Linked DNA regions of Homo sapiens: region 2 is linked to region 1. A link means that fine-mapping ties the variant in region 1 to the expression of a gene that starts in the linked region. Tissue or cell type: whole blood. Region 1 holds a variant in brackets; the other region holds the start of a gene. All regions are shown on one strand. Distances are between the middles of the regions.

Region 1 (8,332 bases):
TGGCACTGCTCACGTGGGGACTCAATGGTCCAGCTCCCCTCCCCCAAGTGCCTCGTCAGAGCAGCCAGGGGCCTCCCTGGACAGTGCCTTTGTTTTCTGTGCCCCGAGGGAGGGAGGCCCTCAGCTGGAGAGGCTCTGGGAGAGGCTCTGCGAGGCACGAGTGGATGAAAGGCCTATTGAGGGGCCACAGAAGCCCATTCAGCCAGCCCTGGCTGCCTGGGTGCGGAGGCTTACAGAGGGCCAAGGGCCGCCTGGACTCTCCCCAAAGAGTCCAGTTGACCCCCACCTTTGGACCATGACCAGGGCCAAGTGGAGTCTATTGCTGAGCCCGGTGTTCTCTGGAGAGGACCCTCTCAAGGCCCTTGACCCAGACAGTCCCGGGACAGGCACCCAGCATCTGCAGGCCACCCCACGGCAGACGCCTTCTCAGCCCCCTCCCCACCAAACACTTCAGGGGTCCCCAGCCCTCTGGGGATAACACAGAACCCCTGACCCAGGGAAGAGGGCCCGGCCCCTCCAGCTCTTCTTCCCACTCTACTTCCTCAGCCTCAGGGCTGATCCACCATCCTGGCCTCACTCATCTTCCCCCAAGGGGAGCGTTGAATGCCGTCCACCTTTGCCTGCTTGATTCCTAGTTTTCCTTGAGTCTCCAGCTGACTGGCATTCCCTGTCCAGCCACCACCTTCTACTGGTGCCTGCCACAGCTACCATCTCACTTCTGTCTGTGTTACTTAAAATTCATCCTGCTTCCACTGAAGCTGGGGATGGCGGGGGCAGCAGGGACCGCATGAGACCAAACTAACTGATGTGAGGACGAGTGGGTTCAAACACCAGCTTCCAACCGCGGGAGCCGGGCAGTCTCCCTCCTGCCATGTCCTCGTTTGTAAAATAAACTGCTTCAGTTGTTGTGAGATCAAGAGCGTCAGGCCTCAGTGTTGAGCACCACGCCTGGCACACAGGCAGCCCTGGGTGTATTTGTAAACATGCCGCAGAGTATTTGTAAAACAGGACGAAGTTATTCTGGCCTCACTTTTTTTTGTCTTTGTTTTATTTGCGGGATGAGGATCTGTGCACTGCACCACTCTTAACCCTTCACTGTGGGCATGTGCGTGTAATTCCTTCAGTCTTTCCTCCTAGGCATTTTTTAAAATAGACAGTTTCCTTCATTTAAGTATTCAGGTATAATTTTGTGTCCTGGCTTTTTTCCTCTACCATGAGCGTTTTTCCAAGTAACTGCATTGTTAGAAATATTTTGGTTACTTTTTGGATAGGTAAACGTGCTCAGGGTACAAAATACAAAAGGTTTGAGAAGGTTCTTAATGAAAACACTGAGTCTTTCTCCTTCATAGTTTTTCTCCCCAGAGGCCATGAGGATACTAGTAATGATGTAATAATACTTTCCCACCCTGGGTGCTGGCTCAGTGGTTACCCTGGGTGCTCATCTGGTGCTGATCCTGGGTGCTGTCTCAGTGCTGACCCTGGGTGCTTATCTGGTGCTGATCCTGGGTGCTCATCTGGTGCTGATCCTGGGTGCTCATCTGGTGCTGATCCTGGGTGCTGTCTCAGTGCTGACCCTGGGTGCTTATCTGGTGCTGATCCTGGGTGCTGTCTCAGTGCTGACCCTGGGTGCTCATCTGGTGCTGTTCCTGGGTGCTAGCTTAGTGCTGACCCTGGGTGCTGGCTTAATGCTGACCCTGGGTGCTGGCTTAGTGCTGACCTTGGGTGCTTATCTGGTGCTGATCCTAGTTGCTGGCTCAGTGCTGACCCTGGGTGCTTATCTGGTGCTGATCCTAGGTGCTGGCTCGGTGCCAGCACAATTTTAAAGGCTTCACGTGGATGGACTAACTTTCAACAACCCAGGAGGTAGATACCATTGTTACTGCCATTTTACAAGTCAGGAAACAGGCACCAGGAGGTTTGGATTTGTCTGTCACATGACCAGAACTGCCAGAGCCAGGATGGACCCTGACCATCTGGCTTCCTCACCTCCCTTCTCTTCCGCAGGCTCCAGCAAGCATTGGAGTCATCTTAAACGATTGGCTTTAATAGGAAAAACCTCTAATATTGGTCTGCTCTCCATTTTTTGCTTCATTTATTCTAGAGAACTTTCTTCCTTGGAACAGATAGAGTTGCTTCAATCTTTTTTAATTGCTGCGTAGTGTTCTGTTCTGTGAATGTCTTATAAGTTAGTTTATTTAATTACTATCCCTATTGATAGGACCACTCCACTATTTTGCCAACAGTGCTGTAATGCTTAAAGAATCTTATGTAGGTGGTAGGTAGTGAGACCACAGGGAAAAATTCATCTGTGGGATCGCTGGGTCAGAGGTAAAATGCGTTTGTGATTTTGACTGTCTGATATTTTTGGCAGTTTACGTTCCTACTGCAGGATATAAAGTCCCTGTTTCTCCACATCCTCTTTGACCTGAAGTGTTGTCAGGTATTTTGATCTTTGCAAACCTGATAGATGGAAAATAGAATTTTGAGGCTTTAATTTACATTTCTCTAATTGTGTCAAGCTGAGCATGTTTTTGTGTTCTAAAACCACTTATATTTCCTTCTGCTTTCCGTGCCATTTTATTTTCTTATGCATTGTGTACAACTTAGTATTTGTTAAGGAAATTGCCCTCATGTAAGGGTTCCGTCTGTGTTTCCAGTGTGGTATTTGTTTTTTGCTTTGTTTATGGTGTATGTGTGTGGTGGTGGGGGGGCGGGGGTGGTTTTTTTTCCCCTATAGAAATTTTTAATTTTTGGCCAGGCCCAGTGGCTCATGCTTGTAATCCCAGCACTTTGGGAGGCCAAGGCAAGCGGATTGCTTGAGCTCAGGAGTTTGAGACCAGCTGGGCAACATAGTGAGACCTCATCTCTACAAAAAATACAAAAAGTAGCCAGGTGTGGTGGCGTGCGCCTATAGTCCCAGCCACTTAGGAGGCTGAGGTGGGAGGATCACTTGAGCCTGTTGAGGTCAAAGTTGCAGTGATTGTGCTACTGGACTCCAGCCTAGGTGACAGAGTGGGACCCTGTCTCAAATAAGAGAAATTTTAAGTGTTTATATAGTTTGATTGATCATTCTTCTCCTTAATAGCTTTTATGTTCTCCTTAGAAAGGCTTCTCCCTCTCTGAGGGAATAAAAAATCCTCTCATGGTTTTTCTTTTTTATAGTTTTACTTTTAACATTAAAAGTTTTAATCTTTTTGGAATTTATTTTGGCTTGAGCAGGGACCCAACCTTATTCTTTTTCCTCAGCAAGCCACTTGTACCAAGACCAATTGTGGAAGAATAATCTACATCCTATTGATTTCAAGTGCTGTCTTCATAAAAACTCTTGGCCAGGCGCAGTGGCTCATGCCTGTAATCCCAGCACTTTGGGAGGCCAAGGCGGGCAGATAACCTGAGGTCAGGAGTTTGAGACCAGTCTGGTCACCATGGTGATACCCCGTCTCTACTAAAATAGAAAAATTAGCCTGGCGTGGTTGCGCATGCCTGTAGTCCCAGCTACTCAGGAGGCTGAGGCAGGAGAATCGCTTGAACCTGGGAGGCAAAGATTGTTGTGAGCCAAGATCGTGCCACCGTACTCCAGCCTGGGCAACAAGAGTGAGACTCTGTCTCAAAAAACAACAACAACAACAACAAAAACCCAGTTATTGTGTGTTTGAGTTTTGTGTTTTTGCTTTCTATTCTGTTCCATTGATCTGTCCAGTCATGTACTGATACCACCTTGCTTTCATTAATCATTTAATTCATTTATTCAATTAGCACATATTTATTATGTCATATATGCCATTCTGGAAACTAAATGTATAGCATTGAACAAAATGATCATAGAGCAAAGCTAATGATGTGTTCATGGAGCTTAAGTTCTGGTAGGGCATCTGCGTGAAAACATACATCAGCTTTGGTAGGGCAGGTGTTGGCAAACTATAACCCTAAATCCGGACTGTTTCCTGTTTTTGTAAAGAAACTTTTATTGGAACATAGCCATGTCCATTTCCTTACATATCGCCATGGCATGCCATTTCTTTACGTACTGCCATGCCATTTGCAGCTATGGTCTGCAAAGCTGAAGATATTTTCTCTCTGGACTTTCATGGAATTTGCTGACTCCTTTGCTAGGGAAAGACTGAAAGTAAACAGAATAGGCAAAATATATATTCGATAGTGACAAGTGCTGTGGAGAAAAATCAAGCTGGAAGTGGGATAGGGCATATTGAGGGTGGGATTTGCAATTTTAAATCAGGTGGTTTGAGAAGGCCTGTCTGAGAAGGTGATAGTTCAGTAAAGAGCCTGGGGGCAGGTCAGGAAATAAGCTTGGTGGAGGAATTTGAGCTGAAAAGTGACCAGAACTGATGTGTGTTCTAACAGTGGGCAGGGTGGAAACGCAGAGACCAGTGAGCAGGCAGTGATGGTGATACAGGCCAGGATGGGGACGCTTAGCACAAGGTGGAAGCAGTGTTTTGTGAGAAGTGGGTGGGGTTGGGGGGGCCGGGCACAGTGGCTCACACGTGTAATCCCAGCACTTAGGAAGGCCTAGGTGGGAGGATCGCTTGAGCCCAGGAGTTCAAGACCAGCCTGGGCAACATGGCGAAACCCTGCCTCTACAAAGAATACAAAACACAGCTGGGCATGGTATTGCATGCCTGTAGTCCCAGCTACTTGGGAAAGTAAGGTGGGAGGATCGCTTGAGGCTGGAGGTCGAGGCTGCAGTGTGTCGTGATCATAGCACTGTGCTCCAGCCTGGGTGACATAGATAGACCCTGTCCCAACATAAAATAATAAATAAAAATCAAGAATG[C/G]GTGTTGAATTTGATTGAATGCTCCTTCAGCATCTGTGGAGATAATCCTGTGTTATTTCTCTTTTGAGCTCTAAATAGATATGAATATATTAATAGATTTTCTAATATTGAACCTTTTTTTTTTGGAGACTGAGTCTCTGTCGCCAGGCTGGAGTGGCCCGATCTCGATCACTGCAACCTCCGCCTCCTGGATTCAAGCAATTCTCCTGCTTTAACCTCCTGAGTAGCTGGAATTATAGGCACCTGCCACCGCACCCGGCTAATTTTTTTGTATTTTTAGTAGAGACGGGGTTTTACCATGTTTGCCAGGCTGGTCTTGAACTCCTGACCTCAGGTAATCCTCCTGCCTCGGCCTCCCAAAGTGCTAGGATTACAGACGTGAGCCTCTGAGCTTGGCCTAGACCATTCTTTATTCCCAGTTAAATTCTGCTTGGCCAATGGCATATATTTTTAATAAGTTGCTGGATTCTTTTAAATACTATTTTTAAGATTTTTGTCTTGACATCTGTGAGATTAGCCTGTAATTTTCTGTGTGTGTGGTCTTCGAAATCAATACTGTGCCTCCTTGTGAAAAAGAATTGGCATGTTTCTTAGGCTCTGAAGTTGTGTGAGTAGCCCTGAAGCTAGCTGTCTGTTTCCTGAAAATCTGATAGGATTGCCTTCCCAAAATCACTTCTTGGGCTGGGCGCAGTGGTTCACACCTGTAATCCCAGCACTTTGGGAGGCCAAGCAGGCGGATTGCTTGAGCTCAGGCACTCAAGACCAGCCTGGGCAACATGGTGAAACCTGTCTCTACCAAAAATACAAAAATTAGCTGGGTCTGGTGGTGCATGTCTGTGGTTCCAGCTACTCAGGAGGCTGAAACAGGAGGATGGCTTGAGCCCAGGAAATGGAGGTTGCAGTGAGCCGAGATCACATGATGTTATTCCAGCCTGGGTGACACTGAGACTCCATCTTAAAAAAAAAAAAAAAAAAAAAAAAAAAAACAATCACCTCTTGGCCTGCTGTGTTAATGTACTTTTTTGGGAGATAGTTCTTGGACATTTTTCTTTATTTAATACAGAACCATCATTTTTAATGGCTATAAACTATTTTAATCAGGGCTTTACCATAACTTGCTTGTGTGGTTTAATGGTTTAATCCTTTTCTAAAAAAGGATTGGGGTGGGTTTCAAGGAATGCCTCCTAAAGTAATTCGCGATTATTCCCAGGGTCTGGTTAGTGGAAAATGTTCCAAGTTATCATAGTAACCACAGTGGCAGTTGTCATTCATCGTTTCTAAGTGCGTGTTGCACTGCTGAGCACTGTGTAGGAGCTCATTTGGTCTCCATGGTAACCGTAGGAGGCAGCTGTTCTGATTTTACTGATGAGGAAACTGAAGGTCTGAGAGGTTCAGTCACTTACCCACGTGGGCAGTGCATCACAAATGGGAATCAAGTCTGCTCTTGAACTCCAATCTGACAGTCTTCCCCCATCCCATATTGTGATTGGATTCACGTGAAATGCCTCGAAAGATAAAAGTTTCCCTTTTCAGTGTGCATCTGAAGAACCATCCCCATGGAAAATAATTAAATTATGTTAAATTGGCACTCGGCTGGAAAGTGGATCCCACAGCCCCTGTGCATGAAGCTCTTGTCTGAAGTTCTTTCACGGGTTCTTAGACTATCCCAGGAAGCCCTGATGGTGCTTCAGGGCTCAGAGTGGCCCCTGTGAGCCCACCCCGCTGGGGACTCAGAAGTTGGGGGAGGGGAGAGGTCTGAAAGCCTGAATTGCTTTCCTAGCTGTTCACCAGGTGACCCCCGGGTTCGCTTAGTTTCTGCATTTGTAACATAGCTGGGAGAATCCTCCTGCAGGGCCAGGCTAAGGATAAGGATGTGGGCTTATCCAGGAGAAGGATATGGGCTCTGTTGGAGGGGCTGGGTTTGTGTCTCAGCTCCTGCACACACCATCTAGCCACTAGAGTCTCAAGTTTTGGTTGAAAATGAAGACTGAGGTTTGAAACTAAGCTGAGGTGGTCCCCACCTCATAAAGTTGCCATGAGGATCTGAAAAGACAATGGGTGAAAGGGCTTTATAAACTGTAGGGTGGCCGAGCGTAGTGGCTCACACCTGTAATCCCAGCACTTTGGGAGGCTGAGGCAGGTGGATCACCTGAGGTCAGGAGTTTGAGACCAGCCTGGCCAACATGGTGAAACCCTGTCTCTACTAAAAAAAAAAAAAAAAAAAAAAAAAAAAAATCAAAAAAATTAGCTGGGTGTGATGGTGCATGCCTGTAATCACACCTACTTGGGAGGCTGAGATGGGAGAATCACCTGAACCTGGGAGGCTGAGGTTGCAGTGAGCCGAGATCGTGCCATTGCACTCCAGCCTGAGCGACAAGAACAAAACTCTGTCTCAAAAATAAATGAATAAATAAACACACTGTAGGGTGCAGGGCACGCGCGAGCTGTCATCACGTTCCTCGCTCCTGAAACCAGCACTGTTGAGCTCTTGGTGCTGTCATGCCACCAGTCCAGCGTCGTGCAGAACCAGGAGGAGAGTTAGTGGCAATTCAGAGGTGGCAGACACCGCACTGGGGTGTGGACGGCCCAGGCTTAGTGCTCACTTCCCACGCGCCCTCTCCCCTGCTAGTCCCTGGAGTCACTCACCTGGAAAGGGCTCTTCCAGTTCTGGAGTTCGAAGAGAGTGACTTACAGAAGCAGGTCACTCGCTTGAGGCAGGGGAGACAGCTGGATCACCAGAACTCCTGGCAAATATCAGTTTTCCTGGTCCAGGCCATTGTCATTATTCACGGATTCACCTACTCACTGAAATTTATTTGTAACCCTAAAATCAGTACTCATGGCACTTTCGGGTTAATGACTGACATTCATGCAGTGTCGAAAAATTCCTTACCTGACACAGGTTTCCAGCTGAGGTCAGACAAGGCGATGCTCCGTCTCACACTGTAAAGAAGTGTCCTTTTTGCAGTCTAGTTAGTGCCATGTATTTTGCATTTTTTGTGCTTTTTGTCAGTGCTTTAAAATGGCCCTGGGCTGAGATGCTATCTAGTCCCAGGCACAAGATGGCTGTGATGTACTTTATGGAGAAAATACATGTGTTAGAGAAGCTTCGTTCAACATTGATTGTTGTTGGCCATGAGTTCAGTGTTAGTGAATGAACTATATGTTAAATATGGTGTCTTTTTTTTTTTTTTTTTTTTTTTTTTTTGAGACGGGGTCTTGCTCTGTCTCCCAGGCTAGAGTGCAGTGGCGTGATTTTAGCTCACTGCAACTTCCGCCTCCCGGGTTCAAGCGATTCTTCTGCCTTAGCCTCCCAAATAGCTGGGATTACAGGCGCCCGCCACCATGCCCGGCTAATTTTTGTATTTTTAGTAGAGATGGGGTTTTGCGATGTTGGCTAGGCTGGTCTTGAACTCCTGACCTCAAGTATTCTACCTGCCTTAGCGTTCCAAGGTGCTGGGATTACAGGCATGAACCGCCGCATCTGGCCTTAAATAAAGTGTCTTGAAAGAGAAACATACATAAAGTAAGGTTATGAAT
Region 2 (8,332 bases), 20 kb before region 1:
TTAGGCAAACCCCGGGCAGGAACTCTGAAAAATGAAGCAAGACTGACCTATTAAAGCAATTGGATTGTGGTTGTTTTTTCTTTCTGCTAAACTTTGCTTGATTGTTGTTCTAAGTGTTTGCAAAATAAACCTCAGGGATAGAAGCGCTTAGGTGGAGAGCTGACACAATGCCCACATCTCAGGCTTGCCCACGTATTGGTATCACTGCTGTAATAATTACTACAACGTTATTGCCTTAACACATTTCCAGTTCTGTAGGTTAGAAGTTCAACTGAGGTCTTGCTGAGCTAAAGTCAAGGTGCAGGCAGGGCTGTGTCATATCTGGGGGCAACTGTAGGAGAATCTGTTTCCTTGCCTCTTCCAGCTTCCGGAAGCTGCCTGTATGCCTTGTCTTGTGGCCCCTTCCTCCCTCTTCAGTGCCAGCAACATTGCATTTACCTGACCATTCTTGTGTTGTCACATCTCTTTTTGACCACAGCCAGGAAATGTTCCCCGATTTTAAGAATTTATGTGATGAGATTGGGCCCACTTGGATAACCCAGGATAGTCTCCCTATCTCAGTGTCTGTACTCTTAGGCCCCATGTGGCAGCTCATGCCTGTAATCCCGGCACTTTGGGAGCCCGAGGTGGGCAGATCACTTGAGGTCGGGAGTTCGAGACCAGCCTGGCCAACATGGTGAAACCCTGTCTCTACCAAAAAATACAAAAAATAGCCGGGTGTGGTGGCACACACCCTTAGTCCCAGCTACTCAGGAGGTTGAGGTGGGAGGATGGATTGAGCTGGGGAGGTGGAGGTTGCAGTGAGCTAAGATCGTGCCACTGCACTCCAGCCTGGGCAACTGAGTGAGACCCTGTCTCGAAAACAAACAAACAAAAAATCACGTCAGCAAAGTCCATTTTGCCAGGTAAGGCAACATATTCACAGGAATTAGCACAGGAATTAGGGTGTGGGCATTTTGGGGCCATTATTCTGCCTATATACTTTCAATTCTATTTTATATTCTGAATATTTGTATACAGAAAAGTGCATAAATAATTACAAAATGCCAGCTTTATATATATATTACATACATATATTACATATATAACATATATATTATATATATTACATATATATATGTTATATATACATATATATATATTTTTTTTTTGAGACCAGGTCTCACTCTGTTGCCTAGGCTGGAGTGCAGCAGTGTGATCGCGGCTCACTGCAGCCTTGACTTCCCCGCCTCAAGCAATCCTCCCACCTCAGCCTCCTGAGTAGCTGTGACCACAGACGTGTGTCATCACACCTGGCTAATTTTTTTTTTTTTGTAAAGATGAGGTCTTGCTATGTTGGCCAGGCTGGTCTCAAACTCCTGGGCCTAAGCCAGCCTCCTGCCTGCCTTGGCCTCCCAAAGTGCTGTGGTTACAGGTTTGAACCACAGCACACAGCCTTTTGATTTTCTAACTTTTTTTTTTTTTTGAGATGGAGTCTCGCTCTGTTGCCCAGGTTGGAGTGTAGTGGCACAATCTCGGCTCACTGCAACCTCTGCCTCCCAGGTTCGAGCGATTCTCCTGCGTCAGCCTCCAGAATAGCTGGGACTACAGGTGTGTGCCATTACGCCCAGCTAATTTTTGTATTTTTAGTAGAGATGGGGTTTCGCCAGGTTGGCCAGGCTGGTCTCGAACTCCCGACCTCAGGTGATCTGCCCGCCTTGGCCCCCCAAAGTGCTGGGATTACAGGCGTGAGCCACCATGCCCAGCTGTGCAGCCTTTTAATTTTCATAAACTGACCACACCCGTGTAACCAGCCCCCAGATCAAGAAACAGAACATGCTCTGTAGCCCCAGAAGTCCTGCTCCTGCCCTCTTCCCATGCACAGTGTGATTTAGCATTTGTTGACATTAGAAAATTCTGTGTATATGTGAGGTCAGGAGTTCGAGACCAGCCTGACCAACATGGAGAAACCCCATCTCCATGAAATTAGCCGGGCGTGGTGGCACATGCCTGTAATCCCAGCTACTTGGGAGGCTGAGGCAAGAGAATTGCTTGAACCTGGGAGGTGGAGGTTGCGGTGAGGCGAGATCGCGACATTGTACTCCAGCCTGGGCAACAAGAGCAAAACTCCGCCTCAAAAAAAAAAAAAAAAAAAAAGAAAGAAAGAAAATTCTGTGTATAGGTAATACCTGGAGTATTATTGAAATACAAAGGAGAGAGCCCAAGCGATGTTTGTTTACTCATTCATTCAACAGATATTTTTCTGGCACCAGTCCTGGGCTGGGTGCCACGGGAAGTGGGATGAATTGGTTCAATGCTGGTCATATGACACAGAATACACGGAGGCAACTGTGTGCAGGAGGGTGGGGTGGGGAAAGGGGGTTTGTGAAGCAAATAAGAACACAATGCATTGGCCAAGCGTAACCAGGCAATGTGGGTCCCAAAGGCAACTACAGTTGCGGAGCAGAAAGGATTTCAGGCCAAGGGAACACTGTGGGCAAACGCATGGCAGTGGGAACAGGCAGGGGGTGCTGTGGGGTTTGGGGAGGCAAAGAGGGATGTGACTATTGGACTTGACAGCCTTGGAGCACTCGCTCATGCTGTCTGATCCACCATCCCCAGTTCTCACGTCCACCAGCCCAAACCCCAGCTCTCCAGACGCAGAACCAGAGGCCTCAGCCCTCATGCCAGTGTCCTCACTTTACAGACAGGGATGCAGGCCCACTGGAGAAGAGAAATACACGTGAGGCTGGTCGCGCACTTCCTTCATTCCCTCACTGCTCACCTTTCTACAGAGCCCTCCTGGGCCTGGCACTGGGGACACAGAGGGGTCAGATGTGGCTCTGCTCTGAAGAGTTCAGGGGCCAGTGGCACAAAACTGGGGCAGAGGCCTGAAGCAGGATCCAGATCCCATCTCCCTTCTGGGGCTCTGCCCAACCCCACGGCTCCTTCCTGCTGTGCCTCCCAGGAAGACCCCTGCGTCCCCATCAGACCTCTCCATCATTCTTCGTTTATGCAGCCTACATTTTTTTTTCTTTTCTTTTCTTTTTTTTTGGGGGGGGACAGGGTCTTGCTCTGTCTCCCAGCTTGGAGTGCAGTGGCGGGATCTCGGCTCACTGCAGCCTCCGCCTCCCAGGTTCAAGCAATTCTCCTGCCTCAGCCTCCAGAGTAGCTGGGATTACAAATGTGTGCTACCATGCCCGGCTAATTTTTGTATTTTTAGTAGAGATGGGGTTTCACCATTTTAGCCAGGCTGTTCTGGAACTCCTAACCTCAGGCAATCCACCTACCTCGGCCTCCCAAAGTGTTGGGATTACAGGCATGAGCCACTGTGCCCAGCCTGCAGCCCATATCTATTTATTGGGCATCTAATGTGTGCCAGGCAATGTTCTGGGTACTGAGACAACAGCTGTGTAGTAGACAGGCCCCTCCCTCGGTAGAGAAGAGAACAAGTGAACCCATAGGTATCCAATGTGTCGGGAGGAGGTAAGTGTCACCCTGTGAAGGAGAAACAGACTAAGGGAAGAGAGAGGGAGGGAAGGCGGTCAGGGGAGTTTCTTTGAGGATGTGACACTCGGGACACAAAGGAAGCAAGTTACACAGGAATGGGGAGAAGAGGACTCCAGACAGGGGAAAGGGGGACCTTGATGGGTCTGGGGTCCACACACAGGCTGTGAATGCAGGGAGTGATGTAGATTTAGCTTTGGAGAGACCTGGAAATCAATGCTGGTCTCTCCATCTCCCCCTGTTCTTGGAAATGGACCACCAGGCGTGAGGTTTGGGGAGGCCACTGGCTGCTTCTCCGGTGTCTTCCTGTATCAGCCACAACTAGCACACGGAGGGATGCTGGCCAGACCTGGCTTCATCAGGATGACACGCCCAGCTAACCTCATACCTCCCCCTTCATCAACACTCCCCCATGTTGGGGAGGCAAGGCAGGGAAAGGTCCCCCATGGTGCAGCTGAGGAAATGGAGGCGCAACACTCTGCACTGTGCCAGGTGCAGAGGAGGGGGGCCGGAAGGGCTTTGCCACGGTGTCCCCCAGGAGACCACCTTCTGGGAGCAGGTGACCTCTTGAGGGGTTCTGCGGAGGAAGTTCCCAGAAGTCAGCCGAGGGGACTTGGTGGAGGTGGCAACGCACAGGGCGGGTGACAAAGTACACATCCCGTGGGGTAGCAGCGGGGGAGGGGAGAGGTGCCCTGAAGGGGCGGCGGGAGGGGCTCAGAGGCGTGATCCCGTTGGTGGGGCGTTTAGGACCTTGGGTGGAGGCGGGACCCCGCGAGCGGTTTGAGGGAGGCTGTCCTGGGCATCCGAAGATTGGCGGAGACTGGCCGTTTGGAAGTGGGCGGGGCAAGGGAGGTCAGGGGGCGGGGCCAGGGAGCCGGGGTGGGTCCGGGCCGTTCAGAGGCGGGGCGGGAGGGGACAGGGGCGGGGCCGGGGCGGGGAAGGGGCGGGGCCGGACCGGGGCCGGGCCGGGCCGGGGCGGGGCGAGCGGAGCCGGGGGCGCGCGGGCGGCGGCGGCGCGGAGGTGCGCTCGCCGGTGCTGTGTTTGGCGGGTGGTGGCGGCGGCGGCGGCGACGGCGACGCGCACAGAGGCGGACTGTGGCTTCCTTGGTGCTCGCGGCGGGCTGCGGGCCGGGCCGCCCGCCCTCCCCGCCGCCGCCGCCCCCGAGCCTGCGGGCGGCGCCGAGGCCGAGGAGCGCTCGCTGCAGCACATGCTGCGTGCCATAGCGGAGGAGCGCGGCCGTCTTAGCCTGCGCCGCGAGGTCTGCGGCCTCGGTGAGTGGGACCCGGGGGCGAGGCCGGGCCGGGAGAGGTGAGCGTCTCCGGGGCCGCCTCTGCGCGTCCGTGTTTCTGTGCGCCCCGCGCATCTCTGTCTCTGCGCGGGTGTCGTGGTCTCTGGGTCTGCCTGGGTACCCTGTCTTCCTCCATGGCCCCCCCCCCACCGTCCCTGCATCTGGGTCTGTCTCTGCTTTCCGTCCGACGAGCGCCCCGCACCCCTGTGCCCGGGTCTCATTCGGCGTCTCCCCCTGTCAGTCCGTCCGGGTGTCTGTCTCATCTTCCTCCTTCTTCTTCGTGTCTCTGCGGGTCTTCTTCCTTCTCCAGGAAGCCCGCCCCGGGCCCTCAGCACCGCGGTAGGGAGTGTGGGCGTGGGATCTGGGTACACCCTTAGCCCAGCGCGGCAGGGTCGGGCCCTCGTTGGGCTCTGGGTGGACCTCGCTGCGAGCGTGCCCTGGCCACTGTCTCCTGCTACCCGAAGCCTTTGTCTTTCCGCACCCACCGGCCCCTCTCATCCCTTAGCTGTATCCAGGGACCTGTTGGGCAATGGCCCCCCGAACCCGCCCGCTTGGCTGAGGGGCAGGGCCTGCTGCCTCTCGGTGTGATTCTGGGCTTTAAGTCATGGATCTGCTGGGGGGCGTGGGATGGGGGTGCCTCGTATTGTTTGGAAGGGCCTGGGACTGCAGGTGTGGGTGGGGTCTCCCAGCCAGTGAGGTAATCCATTACTGATGGATCATGCCCAGACTGAAGCCCAGGAGAAGCCCCCTCTTTTGTCGTCTCAGGTTCGTCATTTTCTCCATGGAAAAGACCCCTCCCTCCTCCGTGCAGGGAATGACTTCATACCACATTGTCAGCCACCCCCCACCCCACCCCCAGGCTAGGCTGGGGATTTCTGAGGGGGTGACAGCATTGCTGAGTACGGAATGTCAGCCTTCCAGATTCACCCCTTCATTCACCGTTGGGGAAACTGAGTCCCAGAGAACAAGTGCATCCCCCTAAGGTCACACAGCTGCAGGGACATGGCAGTCCCAGGCATTCAGGGCCCCTCAGCAGGCCACACCCTGGAGGCTGGAGTGGAGAGAGGAAGTAAATTTGAATCCCTTTTGTAGGAGGCAGGCTTAGCATGGGAGGCTTCCCAGTGAGCAGGCCCCAGCCTAGCCTGCCCAGGCGAGCCTTTCCTCATGCAGGGGTGGGGTGGGGGGTGCTTATGAAGTGAAATGGACAAGAACTTCAATGGTTGACAAGGTTTCAATGGTTTCTTTCTGAAAAGGTGTCAAGATTTACTTTTGAGCAGAAGTTGGAGCGTGCTTATTCATTCATTCTGCAAACATTCATTGAGCACCTACTGTGTGCCACCGTGGCAGGCCCACCTGTCAGCTGGCACCGAATATCTGAGCTGGGATGCATCTGAAGGACCATCTGCTGCAGGTCACTTGGCCCTGTTTGCTCAGCAGCTTCAAGCAGTCCCTCCCCACTCCCCTGTCCACACACACCTATTGTCCTCTGACCACCTTTACCTGTGAGCACCTTCTCTCCTCTTCTAGGCAGCCCCTCCCGCAAGGAGGCTGCAGGGCCATTCCCAGAAGAACAGTGAACAGTGAAAATGGCACCTAGCATTTACTGAGCACTTACTATGTGCCGGGTGCTTTACTCATGCTGCAAATTTAATCCTGACACAATGCTGACTTTGCCAGGGAGCAGTATTATCTCCATATCAGCGATGAAGAGCCTGAGGGTGAGAGAGAGAGAGAGAGAGAGAGAGAGCCTGCCCAGGGACAACCAATGAGGAAGCAGCATAGCAGCATAGCCGGGACTGACCCTCTGCCAGCCTGACCTCAGAGCCTGCCCTCCACTCCCTGAATATCCCCAGCCAGGTCTTTATGTGCCTACGATACTCACGCTGTTTCCTTGTCTCTTCTCCAGGCCTCCCGCACGTGCCAGGTCTCCCCTCTTCCCCTGCTGCTGAACTCAGTCCCTGCAGGGCTCTGAAGCAGAGAAAACCTGCTGTTTTCTCTGCCCGGAAAGCCGCCCCTACTCATGTGCCCCACAAGCATCTCTAAGTTTTCCTTTAAGTCTCAGCTCCAGTGTTGCCTCTCCGGGAACTCTTTCCAGCTCCCAGGCACACAGTCCTGTTCTGCCTGTGTTCTCTTTGTGCCAGGCACATGTTTGTTGGGACAATCAGGATGATTGTGGCCTTGTCATGGTCTGTGTGCTGTCTCCCCAGTTAGCAGGTGAGGCCTTCAAAGGCATTACCCAGTCTGATTCATCTTGGTGCCCAGCATGGGGCACATACGGAGCAGGTGCCCAGTAAACATTTAGTGAACAAGTGAGAAAATTATTATCTGGACTGGCAGATGAAGGGCGTGGAGGGCCACGGAGATGGGAATCTTAGCTTCTTAGAAGGCCTCATTTTTGGCCGGGCGTGGTGGCTCATGCCTGTAATCCCAACCCTTTGGGAGGCTGAGGCGGGCGGATCATGAGGTCAGGAGTTTGAGACCAGCCTGGCTAACATGAGGAAACCCCCGTCTCTACTAAAAATACAAAAAAAAAAATTAGCCAGGCGTGGTGGCGGGCGCCTATAGTCGCAGCTACTCAGGAGGCTGAGACAAGAGAATGGTGTGAACCCGGGAGGCGGAGGTTGCAGTGAGCCGAGATCACGCCACTGCACTCCAGCCTGGGCTACAGAGTGAGACTCTGTCTCAAAAAAAAAAAAAAGGGCTCATTTTTCAGATGAGAGATTTGATGTTCAGCGAGGGGTGAGCTTACTAGGAACTTGATGCCCAGAGTGGAGCGCACCTCTCACCTCTCAGGTGTGAGTCCTGAGAGGAGCCAGAACACCAGCCCCGGAGCACTTCTGCGTCCACTGAATCATCAACACTCTCAAGCTGTGGGGGCAGGGTTGTGTTTGATCATCTCCACTTCACCTCTGTGACAGCCTGTTAGATTTATGAATGAATTTAAATCTCCCAGATTTTTGTTGTTGTTTAGCAAAAGCTTGGGTTACTCAGAAACCTGCTGTGTCCTCTGACGTTGTTTTGAAGGTGTCAAGGGAGCCTCAGGTGGAGGCGCTGGGCTTTGGTTGAGTGGTTGTCATTCTCTGAGTCAGTGTCTGTCTCTGAGATGGGACTAAGCTCCTGGCCCTCCTCACTCAGGGGTCATCGCTCAGCTCTCGTGATGAAAGGCACCTTGTAGATTTCACATCTGGCTTTTGAGGCTTGTCTGTGGCAGCCTCTGCAGTAGAAGGGGAGTTGAGCACTTGCTCTGTACTGAGAGGGGGCGGGAGTGTTGGGCCCTGATCCCTGCCTTGTGGGAGGGCACAGTCCATGGGGGAGACAGCCAGGAGCACAGGTCACTGTTAGCTGAAGTACAAACCCTGCTGGAAGCAGTGGGGCTGCGGCTGCCCGGAGCAAGATTTTGGTGTTGCATCCACAGGACACTGCTCATGACTCCAGGTCACAGATGAACCAGGTGATTCAGGACCCAGGTGTGCGATGCAGACATTTGGACTGAAGGGGGACAAACCCTGCCACTTCTTCCCGGGGCTTGGGCCTTCTCCTGGGCCCTGGGCCTCAGC

What was found.
Region 2: it holds the start of KIAA0930, and the variant in region 1 is fine-mapped to the expression of KIAA0930 in whole blood (INTERVAL, PIP above 0.99).

The regions. Positions count from the first base shown.
Region 1 is chr22:45,217,029-45,225,360 of GRCh38, reverse strand. All of the region lies in intron 1 of KIAA0930, which reads left to right. Among named protein-coding and RNA genes, the nearest start is that of KIAA0930, 20 kb to the left of the region's middle. RefSeq lists enhancers at 1-936, 1,138-1,637, 1,638-2,139. The variant C/G (reference allele first, on the strand shown) is at 4,793.
Region 2 is chr22:45,237,066-45,245,397 of GRCh38, reverse strand. It overlaps KIAA0930, which reads left to right and starts at 4,504. Exons shown (of 10, transcript NM_001009880.2): 1 at 4,504-4,758. The coding sequence starts at 4,695. RefSeq lists silencers at 4,181-4,380, 4,411-4,470, 4,631-4,690, 4,841-4,930.